Linked DNA regions of Homo sapiens: region 1 is linked to region 2. Evidence: fine-mapped expression QTL. A gene starts in region 2. The other region holds a variant in brackets. All regions are shown on one strand. Distances are between the middles of the regions.

Region 1 (2,921 bases), 560 kb after region 2:
GGAAGGATGGAAGGATGGAAGGATGGAAGGATGGAAGGATGGAAGGATGTGGGAGATGACACTGTAGGAAGTCGCAGAGGAACTCAGAGTGTGACTTGGGAGGTTTCCTCAGCCCTGAACCCCATGGTCTTGACTGAGTGGCAATGATTGCCACAGAAATTTTACCCCGGTTGGCTCAGTTCCCCCAGAATAGCAAATACACAGCCAAGCCTTGCCAGTGTTTGATCTATTCCCTAATTTTAACAAATACCTCAAGTGACACATAATGCTAAGGACCACTGGGGGAAGGAGAAGTCGAGAGCTATGCTGGCCTCAGCTCTTAATCTCAATTCCAGAAGCATTTACATTGGCTCCCAGCCCCATCTCATTTAAGGGGCTTGACCCAAACAAAACCTCAAACCAAAACCTTTCATTATTTCAGTTCTCAAAAGCAAAAACAAAAACAGAAAAAAAGAGGAAGGAAGGGTTGCAGACTAATTTCTTTCACAAAGACCCAATTAAATCCCATTTCTGAAGTTGCTCCAAATTTAATTCCAGGAGAGAGGCACTATCACTTGTGACTGATGTCTAAGTGCCATTTCATAGACCCAAAGAGATCCACAAGTTCATACTCAGATCACGGGAAACCATAAGATCCTCTTTCAACCATTTCCCACACTGTACACGCCAATGCACCTATTTGTAGGTGGGGGTGGTAATCTGAAATCCCCTCTCCCAGACTCCCAACATCCCAAACTTCTCACCCAGTGTAACCTTGGTTAAGGAGCATGGATAGCCCCAGTTGCATCCAAGCTTAACCAAATGCAGCTAAAGTGAACGTAACTCATAAAATGCAGGTGCTCTGACTGATTAGAGAGCACTGATGAGTCATCGGAATTAGACTTAAAAACTGACAAAATAGTGTAACTGTGGGGATTCTGGAAGTTTCCAATGGCTACCCCTTCACCCAGAAACTATCACTACAGGTTCACGGACCTTTGAATTTTACTATGAGGTATTCTTTCTCTAAAGCCAAATGTAGTTTGTTGAAAATTAAATATAGCCTTATTTCCCATAAGTATACCCAAATATGAATAATTTTAGCAGCTATATTGCAAGAGTAAGTTTTCATTGAAAATAAAGAAAAGCCTAAACAACTTTTATTGTCACAACAGAGTGACTAGTTTCGTAGGAGACCAACATTTTGCCTAGAGGATCCCTACGGGTCATCTTCGATGTACAAATATTGCCTCAAAAGCAAACCTCGTCTAATGGTAACCCCATCCCTTTCCTAGCCCTTTAATTAGAAAGACTCCAGAAAGGCAGAAATGTAGAGTGTTGGTAATTCCCACTGATTCTCCCTAAGCATTAGGCATACCCAGCCTCAGATGTGATGACAGCTTACCAACAGGAAGGTGACTGGTGGTTGTCATGGAGATCTGAGCCCGGCAGAAAGTTTTGCTGTCCAACAAATCTGTGGCCATGAAAAGATAAAGGACATTTAGAGCACCCCCTCCCCCCACCTCACAATAGAACACTGTGGCTCTTAGACAAACTGAATAAGAATGTAAAGGGCCTTAAGTGTCAGGGAGTTAGTTACCTACTGTGCTACCATAGTTGGTGTCATATAAATAGTTCTCGTCTTTCCAGGTGTTCATGATGGAAGGCTCTACAAAAAATAGAGAAGGAGAATAGTCAGCGATCTCTTTTCCCCAGGGAGAAGAGGCTG[C/T]GTTTTCTAATTCATTGTTCATCAACAAAGTATGGGGGGTGAGGAGTGGTCCTCAGAGACAAGGGATATGATTCTGCTTCAGCTGCGTTACTTTATAATAATGTTGTCTAATTTTCCTTTCAGCATCCTCGGGGAAATGGCCTCATCCATGTGTTCTGTACCTATTGCATTTTTAGGGAAGTGAGAGAAGTTGCAAGAATGGGAACCTGTCCTAGACCAAGTGGTTCCTGGGAATTTTCCTAACCTGGCTTGGCTTTGTTCTGCATTCTACTGCATAATCACCAGAATATTTTTACCCTAGAGTGTGGTGGGGGGGAAGGCCTTGTTAGGGATTAATTTATTTAAATGTATAATAAATAATTAATGAGGCCTTGGGGGGTTAATGATATTTCTTTCAGGAAGAGTCTTGTCAATCTTATCACAGTTTCTTCCTTGCTGAAATCCAGAGATTTGTCATCCAAGTTGGGTGACAGCCCCCTCCCTCTAGGATTTTTCCAATTAGCTTAAAGGATGACATAAAATTCTCAAAACAAAACCAAGGAGAAGGGGTGGACTGTGTTACTAAATCAAACAAACACCTTTTAAGAGTGAAGCCCCACTGCCCCATCGCAGAAAAGAAGTGCTCTTGTACTCTGTCTCTCTTTCTCTTTCTTCTGTGTGCTGCGGTAAACACCTCTCACTTTGACTGACTCTTCAGATTTCAGATTCAAAGGGAACTCCCCTCCACCTACCCCAAATGGAGCTCAACTCCTACGCAACCCCCAGATCTGGGCTGGTCTCCAACAGAAGCATTTTGTTTCTTGGCTAGCCAAAAGCTGTAAGATCTCTCACCTCGTCCTCACCAGAAACTTCCTGCTTTCTCCTCACCGCAGACCTAGGTTACCCTCAGCTCCCCTCCTTGCTGGGTTCTGAGTTTTAGGGCCGGGGTGTAAGCCACTGACTGAGTTTCATTTTGTTTTTATAGCACAAATGATACAAAACCTGACTTACTGGCTAAGTCCTCGTGTTTACGACATAGGGATTTAGCCGGTATTTTAGCTAATAGCTACATGTTTGGACACCCCAAGCCCAATCTCTTGGGGTTACACCCTCTCTCCTTGTTGGGTCACCTTGTACACCTGTTGTTGTCTCTGAAAACAAACTGAACCAAAGAGGTATGGGGGTGTTGGCCCCTCTATGAGCTTCTTCTCCCCTCCTCCTAGGGTGGACCTTC
Region 2 (2,921 bases):
AAAGGTTAAGTGCCCTGCCTAAAGTCCCCAGTGAACCTGTGACTTCTGTCTCTATTTCAGAAGCATTTCTAATGAATCCCTACCTCCTAGTGCTCCTCCATAGAGAGTTATTGTGGAAGCCACCATGTAAATATCCATCTTCATATTTGTTTTCAATGTGTAAACATTTAAATCTGATGGTGAGCCTCACTCAAACTTGGGCATAAAAAGGGGAGACAATAATTGATATGGCTTAAATCATTTACATGGGGTCACCTGGATTTATGATGTTCAGGGAGACCACAGTAAGGCAGCACTGGCAGAACCTCCCAGTAGCCCAGCAGTAGAAGTAATTAGTAAACCTACCTCATGTCAGACTTTTGCAGTCTGGGGTAAGGTTTGTAGGGGTGTGATCTGAATCACAACAAACAGGAGTCTATTTAAGAATTCATGCCTGGGAGTAATTATGGTCATTATGGAATGCCTTCTCCAGACTGTGCTATGAGAAGTAATACAAGGCCCTCCAGGCTTGAAAGGTGGCTCCATCACTCTCTGGTCCTGTCAACTCTGCCAAGTTACTTACCTTCTCTGAGCCTTAGTTTCCTCATCTGTAACATGGGGATAATAATAGTACTTACCTATGTCACAGAGTTTATAGGATGACTGAATGAGTTCATACTAGATAAACTCTATGAATTTGCTGATATTAACCTGTTTTTTTGTTTTTTGTTTTTTGGTTTTTTTTGAGACAGAGTCTTGCTCTGTCACCCAGGCTGGAGTGCAGTGGTGCAATCTTGGCTCACTGCAAACTCTGCCTGCCAGGTCCGAGCAATTCTCCTGCCTCAGCCTCCTGAGTAGCTGGGATTACAGGTGCGCAGGACCACGCCCGGCTAATTTTTGTATTTTTAGTAGAGACAGGGTTGGCCAGGCTGGTCTCGAACTCCTGACCTCGTGATCCACCTGCCTCGGCCTCCTAAAGTGCTGGGATTACAGGTGTGAGCCACCGTGCCTGGCCGATATTGACCTGTTCTTGACCTACAATAATGGCAGTTCCATTTGGCCCAACCTAATACATGTAAAGTGTTTAGAAAGATGCTGCTGGCACACAGTAAATTCCCAACAAATACCAGTGATGATATCATGTGCCAGGATTATGCTAAATGCTTTACATGTATTCTATCATTTAGTCTTTGAAACAATGTCCTGTGACAATTGTTATTATTCCAAGTTTATTAGTTGAGAAATGTTGTCTCAGACCCTTTAAAGCATCTTGCTCAGTTAATATGCGGAGGGCTGGAATCGAACTCAGGCCATTTTTGCTACAAAGCTCAAGCTCTTAATCACTCTGGTGTAGTGCAAGGTTAAATTGGGACACTGCTTGAATTCTTCCTGAGGCTTTCAGATGCAAGGCTTTCCTCCAGAGCAGTAGCTCTCAAAGTGCAATCCCTGTCCCAGCAGTGTCAGTATTACCAGGGAACTGATTAGAAATGCAAATGCTTGGGCTCCACCCCAGACCTACTGAATCAGGAACCTTAAGGGTGGGGTCCAGCATTGTGGTTTAATAAGCCCTCCCTGCAATTGTGATGTATGCTAAGAAGGTTTGAGAACCACTTCTCTGGAGACACTGACTCATACTTCGTTGGTAGTCATCATTAGGCTCAATGATTATAACAGTAAATGACTAAAGCAGTTTTGAACTCACCATCTGATTCAGATCCATGAGTGGTATGGGACCCCCCACTGGGGTGGAATGTGTCTTGGTCTCCTGTAATGAGCAATCAGGAAGGTCAGTACTGCATGTTTTCACTTACACTCCCATCTGCATTTCTTTACCTTTGCATTCTTATACAGCCTATCACAAAGTTTAGTCTTTTTAAGGTATTCCAAAAAATGATGGCAAAACAGCCTTGAATGGGTCCACAATGTTAATTACCGTTCATTGCTTAATCCACTGATAAATGAGCTAGAACTTTAATAAGAATTAAGGAAACTGGGGCAGCAAAGGCTAAGAAGGATGACCACAGGAAGTTTTGTAGAAACTTTGTTTTGGTAGAAATCCAAGAACTGTGGTAAGGAACATGCTAACAAAAATATTGTGATATCTTTGCAGGTATGAGGTTGAGACTAGACATTGTACATTTTAAATAAGGACAATATGAATTGGATTATGAGAAACATAATCACTGCAAATGGGCATACTCTGGCTTAGGGCATGAAACAGAGATTTCTTGGCGGCAGGAAATTAGTATGCAATAAGGAATCTTGGGATTGAATGATGTAAAGATTCAAAGAGAAAGGTCAACTACTTATTTTCAAAAAAAATTGAAAATAAGTAAAAAAGGAAATGGTGAGATGATAGCTAACATTAATAATGTGTATTGGAATATGGGTATTATAGTAAGTTTAAAATAATTTTTTAAAGTTAAATCTGTAGTTTCAACATGACTAGTTAATATAATCCTAGCTTCTCAAACATCTATCACCAGAAAGCTTTAGATTAAGACAACCTCATGAATTGCTAGAATCTAAATCCATAGGTCAAATCTTGAATGCAGCATATTAAAACTCTCTCCCCCACCCACATTTTTCAAAAGCATACTGGAATCTTTTTTTTTTTTTAATCACAGGACAATGCTTACATAAAATGGCTACAGTTATCCATTATGAAGGCACCTTATAAGGAATCTATAGTAACCTGATCGTCACCATTTCCTTGATTAGAGAAGGTGGAAGCGGGTGACACTTAGTCACCTGTGTAACTATATTGAAGAGACAGATTGCTTTGTTCCTTGGCTGATGGTTAAAACAAATGAAAACAACATTTGCTGAAATGCCACACCAATACTCCCACTACCAAAATCACCATGACCGTCACCATCCCATCACCATCATTATCACCATCACCATCACCATCACCACCACCACCACTGCCACTATGATTC

What was found. PIP is the estimated chance that this variant, and not a neighbour inherited with it, causes the effect.
Region 1: its variant is fine-mapped to the expression of CD44-AS1 in monocytes after LPS (Quach 2016, PIP 0.95).

The regions. Positions count from the first base shown.
Region 1 is chr11:34,650,269-34,653,189 of GRCh38, reverse strand. EHF (ETS homologous factor) reads right to left here. Exons shown (of 9, transcript NM_012153.6): 5 at 1,580-1,648; 6 at 1,385-1,453. Among named protein-coding and RNA genes, the nearest start is that of EHF, 31 kb to the right of the region's middle. RefSeq lists an enhancer at 2,297-2,546. The variant C/T (reference allele first, on the strand shown) is at 1,709.
Region 2 is chr11:35,213,675-35,216,595 of GRCh38, reverse strand. CD44-AS1 (CD44 antisense RNA 1) reads left to right here and starts at 1,586. Exons shown (of 2, transcript NR_174965.1): 1 at 1,586-1,765. It overlaps CD44 (CD44 molecule (IN blood group)), which reads right to left. Exons shown (of 18, transcript NM_000610.4): 15 at 1,682-1,744. RefSeq lists an enhancer at 1,157-2,356.